Linked DNA regions of Homo sapiens. The protein of the gene in region 2 interacts with the protein of the main gene of each other region in a pairwise test. Each region holds a gene or a part of one and is shown on either strand. Other genes may lie near its edges.

Region 1 (7,483 bases), on a different chromosome or scaffold from region 2:
CCTCCCGAGTAGCTGGGGATTATAGGCGCCCGCCATTGCGCCCAGCTAATTTTTGTATTTTTAGTAGAGACAGGGTTTTGCCACATTGACCATGGTTGGCCAGGCTGGTCTCCTGACCTTAGGTGATCTGCCCATCTCAGCCTCCCAAAGTGCTGGGATTACAGACGTGAGCCACCGCACCCAGCCTATTTTTTTTTTAAGGTTAACTTAAAAAACTAATCTCCATGTTCTACCTAGGAAAAGGTTAAACAAGAGGCAGAAATAAAGCAGAAAAAGATCTAACATTCGAGTTTAAAAAATTCTAATATAAAGCAAAATAAAATAAGTCAGATCACAAAAAAAGATGTATACAGAAACATGAACTGTAAGAAACTTAATGGCAATTCGGTGCTGGTTTACAAATACAGTAATGTTAGAATTTTAAAACTAAGTTAGATGACTTCAATTTTAAGCTTTTTGATATGGGGATTTGTGTACTTTGGACTTCAACTATGAACTAAAGCAATTTAAAAAGAAAAACTTAAAGTAACTTTAAAGGAAAAAGTAATCTCTAGCACTTCAAATCTGTGCTATTATCTGGACTTTGATTTCCTTTAATTCATATAGACTGTTAAACTAAATATGCAATACAATTCTGAAAAATGTTCATAATAACAGTATCTAAAATCCAAGAACAGTTGAAAGAATAGTTCAACTGCCCCACAACCAAGAAGGGAAGAAAGAACCCCTACACGCCTTTCCATACCTCTGCTTCTTTTTCCCCAAATAGGAAAAATAAGAGTGCTTTCCAAGACAGGCTATGAGGTTGAGCAATTTGATTCTTTTCCATTTCATCATTTCCAGCCTGTCTACAATTGTACTTAAGTTCTTATGATAGTATGGTTCTAGTCTGAGAGGTTTACTCATCTATTCATTTTTACAACATGCATCTTAAATAACTGGCACAAGAATTACAACAATATATAAAAACTGGCACTGAAAAAAATGAAAAAACCAGAACCCAGAGTAATGACACAGTCAGTGCAATAGAAAAAATATAGAGGATAGTTCAGACAAAAATATGGCATCAGAAATATAGGGGAATGTTCAAGGGTTTTTCTCTAAAATTCCTTAAGCTTACAATTAAATTAACCCAAAATTTACCTTGCATTAGTATCAGGGAAGAAACAGCTTTCAAATGTTACGAAATTAAACTACCAAAAAAGTTCAGGCACAGTGGTTCACACCTGTAATCCTGGAACTTTGGGAGGCTGAGGCTGGCAGATCACTTAAGGTCAGGAGTTTGAGACCAGACCAGCTTGGCCAACATGGTGAAACCCCATTTCTACTGAAAGTACAAAAATTAGCAGGGTGTGGGGGCGCACACTTGTAATCCCAGCTACTTAAGAGACTGAGGTGGGAGGACTGCTTGAACCCAGGAGGCGGAGGCTGCAGTGAGCCCCAAGACTGTGCCACGCACTCCAACCTAGGTGACAGAGCGAGACTCCGTCTCAAAAAAACAAAAAACAAAAGAAACACTGCAGCCCATTTCACCTCCACCCTCTACCTCAAGTTCCATGACAGTGTGACCCACAAGCCCTCTGTGTACATAATATACCACAACGAACAAGTCAGCTTACCTCGTGTTCCGAAAAAAGTGCTTTCAACTGCCCCTTGGACCAATAATCCAAAGCATATGCCAAAAGCCGCATGGCGATCGTATTAATTCTCAAGAAATTTCCAACAAATACCACCTGGTTAATGTTCTGAGCACACCAAAAAAAGGCAATTAGTTTTCATCTTAATTTCTATTTTCTCATAAAAGCTACCCCAAATACAGCACCATGTGCATAGCTCTTAGCAACAATTTGACTGCTGATCAAATTTAGTCCAGTTGGTCCAGGGCTACTTAAACTTGATCCCCAGACAACTCTGGACCCACTGCAAAGCATGCTAGATAATGTCACAGGAGAAGAAAACAGATTAGGAAAAACATTTGTATTAAATCTGACCAACAATAACTAGTTTTGAATACAATGTTTTATACAGATAAGTTAAAATAAACAAAAAAAAACAGTATGACTCCAATCCAAAAGGACAGTGACACAAACAGGCAAAGTATACAAGCAATATAACAGGCAGCGAAAAATTCAAACCACTAGTCATCAAACAAAAGTAAAATTTTAGACCTATTAACCTCGCAAAAAAAAGCAACTGAAATTCCACCACCACCATCAGTAGTTGTAGTAAAATTAATCCACTCATTCACCGCTAAAGATGATCTAAATTGGTGCAGCCCTTGTGCAAAGCATCATGACGATAAATGTCAAAATTCATGAGCATGATCATTTCTGTAGACCAGAAATCTCACTCCTAAGCCCCATATCAAGAATAAAATTCAACCAAAGAATAACTTCATGCTTAAAAATGCTTACTGCCGAGTTATGAGCAAGCAACCAAATGCCAAGCTCTGTTATTTGATATAAAAGAACTTGATCAAATAAATATACAACCATGAAATGTATATTTAAGTATAAAATACAAATTGTGGTATGCACACCAACTAAAATTTCTGAAAATACGTAAGCACAGGAAAGGGAACATACAATAAAGAAAAAAGAAGTTATGATATTCCAACAAATGTTTAATTACTTGATGCTGATACAGTATTTTTTTAATTTAAAATGAGACAAATCCTTTGTGTCTTTTGAGGTTTCCTTTTAAGCTACATGCCTATTATTATCTAAAGAATAACTTCTTAAAAATAAAAATAAAAGAATAATTTAACAACTATACACACAGGGACAAGCCATAAGCTGCACCAACTGGATCCTAGATCCTCTTTTCCCAAGGGCAGCCCATTCTTGGTTCTTTCATAGCCCTGTACAATGCTGCTTGACCTGAATGCTACAAGGCAGCACTGTAAAGAAGCTGAAAGCACAAAGACGCAGCTCTGCTGAGGTGGGGGAGCCAAGGAGGGCACCCCTCGGCCTGCTCAGTCTTCTCCCAGCTTCCGTGACTTCCTCTGGATTCCTCCCTAGGGCCTCTAGAGCTCAGCAGTGAGTGTGGAGTCTACATTCAGCATCGTTATCCATCATCACCCCCAACAGTCCCCAATATCTGGAACACTGGCTACCTTCCACTCTTCCTCTACTTTCTCCTCAAAAGATGTCATTTTACCTCTAGACAAGTAGCAATGTTTATCTTCAGTTTAAAAAAAAAAAAAAGAAGATTAATCTGTATTTGAAGAGTTTTAACTTCGTGCTAAAACAAACCCCACCCCAAATGACTACATTTAGGCACTGTTCTGAGAAAACAGACGTGATGGGGCCCACTTAAGTTCAGTATTTTCCTTAGAGCAATTAAAGAAATCCATGTCCCCTTACTTCATTAAGGGCACACATTCTTGCTATTGAGCCAATGTTGTTGGTGATGGTGATCAAAGTCGCTCTGGCCAGGTCCTCTTTACTGACAGCCTCTCGCTTCTCCTTGCTCATCATGTTTCCAAAGCTGTGATGGGGGAAAAAAAATCCCATTGCTAAACCAACAGCAACAAAGCCCAACAGAACTTGAATGTTACTTTATTGAAATAAAATTAGCTTTTAGGGCAACATTGTTGAAATCTTCAAACCTTTTATTTTGCAATGGAGCATCTGTTCAAAGAGAAATGCAAACTTCAAACAGAGCCCTCCAACATTCTAAATGAGCAGACAGCTTTCCCTGCGGTTTCTACTGAAATCTAGCTTGGATACCAGATATTCACATATTCAGTTAGAATCTCATCAGATGCACTGGAAGGCACCATTGCTCCTGCAACCAGACAGTTCCAGGACAACACCTCTAACAGCAATTCATCTCAACTGCACAGCTGTTCCACTCAGATGGCCACATGCACATCTGGTAAACTGCTCTATCAGAGCAGAGTAAAGCACAGACAGCTGAGTCCCAGAGTGAGCTGCTTAAGAATTTCAGGTTTCCCTAGAAGATAAAGTACTTCAAAGTACATGCTCAGCAGAACTGCTACAATAATTTTCCAATCAGAAAAGGAAGTGATGACCAACGAGCAAATGTTACAAACAGAAAATCAACAGCATTGACCAAGTGCCTAAAACTTAGTAAACAAGCATGTATACATATGATTTTTCTATTAGTAAAAGCCATGTGCCCCAATATACGAAAAACAATTGTACTTCTAAACGATCTCAAAATGGAGACAATGATTTCATTTATAATAGCATTAGAGAATAAAACACTTACGGATATATCTAACAAAAGTATTAACACCTGTACAATAAAATCTACAAAACACTGCTGAAAGAAAGCAAAGATCTAAATCAATGGGAAGACATTCCATCTTTTTGGATCAGAAGACTTTGTATTAGGATGGCCAAAAGATTCAATGTAATCTCTATTAAAATCCCAGTTGTCTTATTTACAGACCTTGCCAAGTTAACCCTACAATTCATATTCTCAAGGTACCCAGAATAGCCAAAATAATCTCGAAAAAAGAACAAGTTGGATGACTCACACTTTCTTACTTCAGAACTTAATACAACGCTACAGTATCAAGGCAGTATGGTACTGGTATAAAAACAGACATATATATCAATGGAACATAACTTAAGAGTCCAGGAGTAAACCCAAACATCTATGGTCAACTAATTTTTGACAAAGGGGCCAAGAGAATTTAACAGGGAAAGAATCATCTTTTCAACAAATGGTACTAGGACAACTGGATATCCACACGCAAAAAGAAATGAACTTGGAGCTCTACCTCACACCATACACAAAAACTTACTCAAAATGGATCAAATATAAGAGCTAAATATAAGAGCTAAAACTGGCGGGCGTGGTGGCTCACGCCTGTAATCCCAGCACTTTGGGAGGCCAAGGTGGGCGGATCACGAGGTCAAGAGATCGAGACCATCCTGGACAATATGGTGAAACCCTGTCTCTACTAAAAATACAAAAATTAGCTGGGTGTGGCGGCACGCACTGTAGTCCCAGCTACTCAGGAGGCTGAGGCAGGAGAATCGCTTGAACCCGGGAGGTGGAGGTTGCAGTGAGCCGAGATCGCACCACTGCACTCCAGCCTGGTGACAGAGCAAGACTCCATCTCAAAAAAGAAAAAAAGAAAAAAATACACACACACACATATATATATATGAGCTAAAACTATAAAACTCTTAAAAGAAAATAAACAATTCTTCATGATCTTAAATTAGGCAATTCTTCATGATCTTAGATTTCTTACACATAACACCAAAAGCACAAGTGACAGAAGATAGATAAGATTAACTTCATCAAAATTTAAAATTTCCATGCTGCAAAGGACACCATCAAGGAAGTGAAAAGACAACTAACAAAATGGGACAAAACATTTGCGAATTATGTATCTAATAAGGGACTTGTATCCAGAACTCAATAATAAAAAGACAATCCAACTAAAAACTTAGCAATAGACTTCAGCAGACATTTATCCAAAGACTACAGACAGATGGCCAGTAAACACATGAAAAGATGTTCGGGCTGGGCACAGTGGCTCACACCTGTAATCCCAGCACTTTGGGAGGCCAAGGTGGGTGGATCACTTGAGGTCAGGAGCTCGAGACCAGCCTGGCCAACATGGCCAAACCCCATCTCTACTAAAATTACAGAAATTAGCCAGGCATGTTGGCATAATTTACAGGTGTGCCTGTAATCCCAGCTACTTGCGAGGTGAAGCAGAAGAATCACTAAAACCCAGGAGGTAGAGGTTTCAGTGAGATAAGATGGTGTCACTGCACTCCAGCCTGGGCAACAGAGAGAGACCCTGCCACACACACAAAAAAAATGTTCAGCCAGGAGTGATGGCTCACACCTGTAATCCCAACATGTTGGGAAGCCAAGGTGGGAGGATCACTTGAGGCCAGGACAGCCTAGGCAACATAGCAAGACCCTATCTCTACAAAAAAAAAATTAGGCAAGGCAGTGCACAGCTGTAGTCCTAGTGACTCAGGAGACTGAGGCAGGAGAAACACCTGAGCCCAGGAGACACAGGCTGCAGCCAGTTATGATCGCAACACTGCACTCTCATGTGGGCAACAGGGCGAGACCCTGCCTCTTAAAAAATAAAAACGCTACAAGATATCACTTCACTCCTATTAAGACAACTAAAACCAAGAAGACAGATAATAACAAATGTTGACAAGAAATATAAACGCTCATAAACTGCTAAGATTGTAAAATGGGACTGCCACTTTGGAAAACAGTGTAGCAGTTCCTCAAAAGATTAAACATTAAGTGACCATATGACTCAGCAATTCTACTCTCAGGTATATACCCAATAGAATTAGAAATATATGTGCAGGCCAGGCGCAGTGGCTCACGCCTGTAATCCCAGCACTTTGGGAGGCCAAGGCGGGCGGATCATGAGGTCAGCAGATCGAGACCATCCTGGCCAACATAGTGAAACCCCATCTCTGCTAAAAATACAAAAAAAATAGCCGGGCGTGGTGGCAGGCACCTGTAGTCCCAGCTACTTGGAAGGCTGAAGCAGAAGAATGGCATGAACCCAGGAGCTAGAGCTTGCAGTGAGCCGAGATCACGCCACTGCACTCCAGCCTGGGCGACAGACCAAGACTCCGTCTCAAAAAAAAAAAAAAAATATATATATATATATGTGTGTGTGTGTGTGCATACATACAAAGACTTACATATAAATGTTCAACATTATAACCAAAAAATGGAAACAACCCAAATGTTCATCAACCAATAAATGGATAAAATGTAGTATTATCCACGTAATGAAATATTATGTGGCAGCCGGGCGCGGTGGCTCACACCTGTAATCCTAGCACTTTGGGAGGCTGAGGCGGCAGATCACCTGAGTTCGAGACCTGCCCGGCCAACATGGAGAAATCCTTTCCCTACTAAAAAATACAAAATTAGCCAGGCTTGGTGGCGCATGCCTGTAATCCCAGCTACTCAGGAGGCTGAGGCAGGAGAATTGCTTGAACCTGGGAGGTGGGGGTTGTGGTGAGCCGAGATCACGCCATTGCACTCCAGCCTGGGCAAAAAGAGTAAAACGCCGTCTCAGAAAAAAGAAATATTATTTGGCAATAAAAAGGAATAAAGTACTGATTCACACTGTAATGTGAATGTTTGAAAACATATGCTATATGAAGAAGTAATCACAAAAGATCATATACTGTATGATACCACTTATATGAAATGTTCAGAAGAGGCAAACCTACATTGAAAATAAATTACTGTTTGGCAGGGGCTGTGGGGGGAATGGAGAGTCGTAGCTAATGAACACAAGGTTTCTTTCTAGGATGATAAAAATGTCCTAAAATTGGGATTACAGTGATGGTTGCACAATCCTGTAAATATACTAGAAACCACTAAATTGTACGCTTCAAACAGCTGACTTTATAGTACGTAAATTATATCTCAATAGAGCTTTTTTAAAAAATATGCCCAATATTATTATTTTATGTCTTTTTTTTTTTTTTTTTTTTTT
Region 2 (7,483 bases):
TTAATTTTCAAAAGTGCAACTTCAAGGATCCTAAAAAGTAGTAACTGTTATAAGTGAAAACTCAATTTTATTTAGGAAGTTAGCATCATACCTTTTTACCATCAGGTTTATTGATAAGGAAGATTTCACTCCATATCTGAATTCCTGTGGTCTCTCGCTCAGATCCACCTCTCCATGAAAAACCAGTCAATGGTTCATTGTAGTCTCCAACCCAATCAACTGATTCCTATAAAATGATAAAGTCTATGATATGGAACTTGATATGTGTATATAGTTTTTTCCATTCATTCATTCTGATTCTTATCCCTCTCCAATTCGAGTTAAAAGGAAACAACATATGCACATCTATTGCATTGATACCATCACTTTATTCATCCAAAAAATAATTACAGAGGAGCAACCATCTGCCACATTTTTGATATGTCCTGGGGATATAAAAATGAAAAGATATCATTGCAGACCAGAGGAAATTCACAGCCTAACAGCGAGACAGACATGCAAACAAACCATTATGATGCAATAAATGCATGCCAAAATGGAAGTATATATAATGCATAAATGGTAGCATAGAAAATAAATAACTAACCATTGGTCAGGCAAGACCACATAGGATGTTTGAGCTAAGACTTGAAAAATATTTAGGAATTTTCCAGGGAAGCAAATTTGGAGAAGGCATTCCAGAAAGGAAGGCAAGCAGGCAGGCAGGCAGAAAGGAAGGAAGTAGGGAGCATATTATGCTTTGGTTTTGTGGGAGGAGGAAGCAAGTAGCAGGAAGAGGCTGGACAGACAGCCAGATTCTGAAAGACCTTGTAAGGTCCTTAAGGGAGTCAGATTTTATCCTGCAGGCGACGGAAAGTTATGAAGAAGCAGAGATGAATTATCATCATAGTTGTGGTAGAAAGATACTATTCTAGAAGTAGGTAGGGCTAGTTAGTAGGGAAGGGAAATGATAGCTAGAAAAGATAAAGGTGGGGGTGCTATAATAAAGGTCAAAAATATGATTGAAGGTCTGACCAGGGCCAGGACAGCAGGAAGGAATAGACAAGTACTGATGCAAGTGGAGTTTGAGAAGCCAAAGGAAGACAGAATAGGAAAAATTATCAATTGTTTAAAGGCTGAAGATCAAGTTGGATAAGGCATGGAAAATATCCCATAGATTTAGTAAGTCAGTAATTGGTGACCTTGGTTGATAGTAGTTACCCCCATTTTGATATCTGTTACAGAGAATAAGTTATTAGTTTTTGGAAGATCTCATTAGATAATTGTCCAATCTAAAACCTTACAGTAACGAATGCAGAGGAATTTGGGAGAGGACTACTTGGACTGATAAAAAATCTACATAAACTAATTTAAAGAAAAATGTATTTAATTATATCCTATCTTGTTCTAAAAGGCATTTTAGACCGTTATCAAGAGCTTTGGTTCTTCTGTGAATTTGTTCTATTATCTGGCTCAATAACCTATTCAATCTTATTTCTTCTTCATCTCCAATACTTAATTTCCACTCTAGGGAAGAAGGTGTACACTCTGTTTAATACATATATTATACTTATTCCTCATAGTCCAGAATGTCCATTCTTCCTTTTCTGGTCCAGATCCACACATCTTCAAAATCTATTCTAACTTCCAATATCTCTATGAAGCTTTCTCCAGTTACTTTTGCCTACAATATGCCCTTCCCTGAACTACACTTAGAAATACGTCGATCAGGCTGGGCATGGTGGCTCATGTCTGTAATCTCAGCACTTTGGGAGGCCGAGGCAGGTGGATCACAAGGTTAGGAGTTTGAGACCAGCCTGGTCAACATAGTGAAACCCTGTCTCTACTAAAAATACAAAAAATTATCCAGATGTGGTGGCGCATGCTTGTAATCCCAGCTACTTGGGAGGCTGAGGCAGGAGAATCCTTGAACCCGGGAGGCAGAGGTTGCAGTGAACCAAGATTGCGCCACTGCATTCCAGCCTGGGTAACAAGAGTGAAACTCTGTATCAAAAAAAAAAAAAAAAAAAAAGAAAGAAAGAAAAGAAAAAATATATCTGTCACCATATCACCATGTAATGATGCTCTAAATATTTCACCTATTGTTATTCTGTCTCCTTGGCCAAACCATGAGATGCCTAAGTGCAAAATCTATGGTATGTTTTCTTTGGTATCCACCATAGTGCCTAGCACAATCTAGAACATTTAGCAGGTAGTCAATAAATAATTACTATTGAGGTAGAAATTGAAATTTTTCCAATAAGGTATTACCTGGAAAAATGTCTTGGGATGCATACTTCAATGAATAAATTGTGATTATTATTAATTAGCATAATAACATTTCCATAACATTCACTCTGAGTCAATGATCTACATTGAGATATTCATAAAAATCCTAAGCCTGAAAAATAACCTTGAAGGACAAGGAAAACATACCCAGCTAATTTTTGTGTGTTTTTTTTTAGTAGAGACAGGGTTTCACCATGTTGGCCAGGATGGTATTGATCTCTTGACCTCGTGATCCACCCACCTCGGCCTCCCAAAGTGCTGGGATTACAGGCGTGAGCCACAGTGCCCGGCCAGCAATTTATTTTCAAATGCATCAAAGAATAACTTGGAGTGATGGCTGGAAAGAGGGATGAATAGATGGAGTCATAAGTGATAAAGCAGGAATACTAATGTTAATGGTAGAATCTGGGTGGTGGATACCAAGATGTTTAGTATAAAATTTTTTTAACTTTGCTATATGCTTGAAATATTTCATACTAAATGTTGGAAAAAAGTGATTACAATACAAAAATTATGTGACATTTTAAACACTATAACATTTAAGTCTATAATCAGAATATTATGTGCCTATTTTTAAAAGAATAAAAATATAAGTTATATTCTAAGGGAAATGCAGCAAAGCAGCTTCAGAGAAAATTGGTCTGTGTAGTTTGGTCCCCAAAGCACTGAGGTTGGAATGGTTACACCACAGCATTTCTTTAGCTGGTTCATATATAGGGTACATAATAATAGAAATGAAAATTTTGAACACCATGAAATAAAAACATGAAGTGACAGAAGCACAGAAGAAAGAAAACTTTTTAAAGTACTTCCTGCATACCTGGTTGTACATGTATCTCAACATGAAGTCCATCAGGAATGATTTTCCTTTTCTAAATGCTCCAGCAACAGATACAGCAACAACCTCCTTGTCTCTGACAGCCTCCGAGAGAAGGATCCGATTTAATGCAGTTTCATCTAACTCAAAGGAATGGTCATCTTTGACAATGAGGACTTGGACTGGTCCTGCCTTTTTCACTGGCTCCTCCTCTTCTGAGCTCCATTCATATGTCTTTTCCGAAAATCCACCTGTTGAACAGAGCAGTGACTGGTTCAGCTAATCATCTCAAAGTGCCAAGAAATGTATATGTACCTCTTAACTCTCAAACATCCGACACAGGAGCATACTGGAATTATAAATGCTCATTTTATGCTGGGTGCAGTGGCTCATGCCTGTAATCCTAGCACCTTGGGAGGCTGAGGTGGGAGGATCGCTTGAGCCCAGGAGTCAAGAGCACCCTGGGCAACATAGTGAGATCCTGTCTATACAAAAAATTTTAAAATTCGTCAGGTGTGGTAGCACGTGCCTGTGGTCCCAGCTCTCAGGAGGCGGGGGTGGGAGGATCACTTGAGCCCAGGAGGTCAAGGCTACAGTGAGATATGATTGTGCCACTGCACTCCAGCCTGGACAATAGAGGGAGACCCTGTCTCAAAAAAGAAAAAGAAAAAAAGAAAGAAAGAAAAGAAATGTTTGTTTTAATGACATATTTTAATGTCATTCACACTATATCCCAGGAGGACTTACATTTGTTCTTTCTGATCATATGACTGAATCAAAAAAATTTTTCAAGAAAACTCTAAGTCAGTGCAGATGTCTCTGTCTGCTGAGTCAGAAAGAAAATCAAAGCAAAGCACTCTACTTTTGGAGCAGAGGAATAAAATGGTTGTAGTTCACACTTTCTTTATCCCCTAGAAATAGCTTATTTACATAAAGGATCCTTGCAATACTTTTTAAAGCTGAACATATATAGGAAGAAATACCTAGAAGGGCTCAGAATCACAGATTCTCAAGCATGCTATTGGTATTATTATAGATGAGGAAATTAAAGCCAAAGATGTGACTGACCTTGCCCAAGAGATGGAAATGGAATTTAGAAGGAAGGAAATGGTAGACTTCCTCATATAGGATTTCTATATCTTTCTCATGTTATTTATTTAATCTTTGTAATGTTCCAGTACGGTATTTATTATTATCTGTATTTTTGACACATGAGAAAATTAAGAATCTAATTAAATTTCCCAAGAGCACAACTATTAGAAAGTGACAGATTACAGGTCCAAGTTCACATGGACGGTAACTGCCAAACTGGGATTAGATTGCAAGAGTCAAAACTTTCATCCCAGATCTTTCTACTACAATAAAAAAAAAAAAATTCTGCCTCTTTGGTAGCAATCAAATAACTTTTGGACAACACATACATAGGCTCGTTTGCTTTATATCATAAGAACAGAAAGTCTATACATACACCAATTAATTCCTCAGATCAGATATATGACCTAGCCTCAAAGAAACCCTCAATAATTGCTATTGTAGAAACCTTAATCCCCAATGTTAGAGATGAGGCCTTTGGGAGGCCTTAGATTATGCTTAGATTAAGTTACGAGGGTCTCCCATCATAGAGTTAGTTCCCTTATAAGAAAATTAAGGAACCAGAGCCCCTTTTCTCTGAATTATGAGGATACACGAAGAAAGCAGTCTATGAACCAGGAGGAAGACCCTTACAAAAAAACCCAGCCCTGCTGGCAGTCTCATCTCATCCAGCTGCCAGAACTGTGAGAAATAAATGTTTGTTGTTTAAGCCACCCCAGTCTATGATTTTCTGTTACAGCAGCCCAGAGTGACTAAGACAATGATAATAATTTTGAAACAAACTGGACTCTTAAATAATCTTTTATCTAAATTTTTGAAAATATCTTTAGGTAGACATTCTTCATGATGTCTATTTGATAAGAAGTTTTATAACTAGATAAAAGCAAGGCAATCATCTCTTGGCATAATTTTAAATAAGTCTTCAGATCACATTGATATATATATATCACATTGATAACTTTATTGCTGTTCATCTATAAAATAATGCTATTGAAATACTGAAAATATATAATTTTAGTTTTGCATGAGTAGAGATAAGTATACACCACTACTTTCTGAACAATCATACAAAGCATCTAGAGACAACAGACCATTGCCTATAGCCACGAATCAGAGTTGTTCTCTCTGCAAAGTTAAGAAAAGTTGACTTTTTATCTGAAAGATAATAGCTTCTATATTGCCATTTCACAGGTGCTGGAGTCAGAGAGCCTTTGTTTAAATCCCAGCCTTACAATTTACAACATAAAGTTGTGGAAATTATTTAGCTTCCCAATGGCTCACTATGCTCCATTTTAAAAAGATTCATAATGGTACCCATATCAGAAAGCCTTTGTGAAGACTTAACAAAGTAATTTCCATTAAATAAAGATTGAAGAATCTGACAAATAGTACATGCTTAATGAATGGTGACTGTTATTAATACTATTATCTATTCATGTCTGATTACAGTCCTACCTACCACCTAATTTCAGTCTCAGTACAAAGGCCCTTTTTGAGAATAGCAAATACATATTTTATTTGATGACGCTCCTTGCCTATGATTTAATTATGATCTGAGCACACAAATGTGAATCACAGACCCAAGCTAGACATAATATTTTGGATAGAGAAACAGCTTTGGGGCAGAAAACTAGATCATAACTTTCTATAGACTGAAATAATTGTTTGCAACAAACTACACATATGCAAAAGGTACTGGAGAATGCACATAGAAATGGAATTTCTGGGTTGTAAGTTTTTCAAATATTCAACTTTAAAACATGGAGCAAAATTGTCTTTTTCTAAGTGGCTATATAAATGTTTCACTTCCGCCAGCAATTTAACATCCTATTGATCCATATCCTTTCTAACACTTGGTTTTATCTGACTTTGTTTTTGTCAGTTGCAGAGGTATAAAATGTTATCTCACTGTGGTCTTGATATACATTTCTCTAATTGCTAATAAGATAAGTACTCCTTTTATCCGTTTTTCTATTAGGTAGTTTGTCTTTTTCTTACTGATTTGTAGTTCTTTATGTATTTTGAATGCTATCCCTTTGTTAGTTACATGCATAGCAAGAGTCTTCTAGTTTCTAAGAGTTTGCCTTTTCATTTTCCTTAAGCTATAATTGATGAAAAGGCATTCTTAATTTTAATGTAATAGATTTTATTAATATTTTCTTTTATGGTTAACATTTTGTATACCATGTTTAAGAAATGATTCCACATACAAGATCTGAAAGATAGTCATATATATTCTATTTTATTTTATTTTATTTTTTATTTATTTATTTATTTTTTTGAGACAGAGTCTCGTTCTGTCGCCCAGGCTGGAGTGCAGTGGCGCGATCTCGGCTCACTGCAAGCTCCGCCTCCCGGGTTCACGCCATTCTCCTGCTTCAGCCTCCTGAATAGCTGGGACTACAGGTGCCCGCCACCTCGCATTTTTTATTTTTTATTTTTTTATTTTTAGTAGAGACAAGGTTTCACCATGTTAGCCAGGATGGTCTCGATCTCCTGACCTCGTGATCTGCCCGCCTCGGCCTCCCAAAGTGCTGGGATTACAGGCGTGAGCCACCGCGCCCGGCCAATAGTCACATATATTCTTCTAAGTTTATTTGTTTGTTGTTTTTTGAGACAGGGTCTCACTCTGTTACCCAGGCAGAGTGCAGTGGTGTGAGCTCAGCTCACTGCAACCTCTGCTTCCTGAGCTCAATCGATCCTCCCACCTCAACCTCCCGAGTAGATGGGACTACAGGCACACACAACCACCAAGTCCCACTAATTTCTGTATTTTTTGTAGAGATGGGGTCTCACCATGTTGCTCAGGCTGGTCTCAAATTCCTGGACTCAAGTGATCCACGTGCCTTGGCCTCCCAAAGTGCTGGCATTACAGGGATGAACCACGGTGCCCAGACTTTTCTATGTTTTAAAGTTTGCTTTTGATACTTAAGTTCCTAGTCCATCAGAAGTTGTTATTTGTAGGGTGGAAGATAAAAGCCATTTCTTTTTTAAATATGAGAAACAAATTTTTTCAGAGCTCTGTCAAAGCCCCTTCTTTCCTCAAGTGGTCTGCCATGAGATCTTTGTCATAAGTAAGAGTTTTACACAAACACACACCCCCACATACACACTGACTCATTTCTGAGCTCTCAGTTCTGATCCATTCATCAATTTCTCTACACCAGCACCAATTTTACACTATCCTATTCAAAATAGCTTCATAAAAAGTTACTGTATATAATATGGCAAGCACCTCCTATCCTTCTAATTATTATTGGTCTTGGCTATTTTAACCCTTTCCATATAAATATTAAAATCAATCTG

The links.
Region 1: the proteins of ATL1 (region 2) and PANK2 interact in binary tests that used the Homo sapiens proteins (3 or more experiments, as listed by UniProt).

What each region holds. Positions count from the first base shown.
Region 1 is NC_000020.11:3,912,933-3,920,415, reverse strand, and holds part of PANK2 (pantothenate kinase 2, mitochondrial isoform 7 precursor), read right to left. Parts: intron 3,490-7,483; coding exon 3,366-3,489; intron 2,923-3,365; exon of another isoform or gene 2,845-2,922; intron 1,746-2,844; coding exon 1,620-1,745; intron 1-1,619.
Region 2 is NC_000014.9:50,583,684-50,591,166, reverse strand, and holds part of ATL1 (atlastin-1), read right to left. Parts: intron 3,337-7,483; coding exon 3,089-3,336; intron 227-3,088; coding exon 92-226; intron 1-91.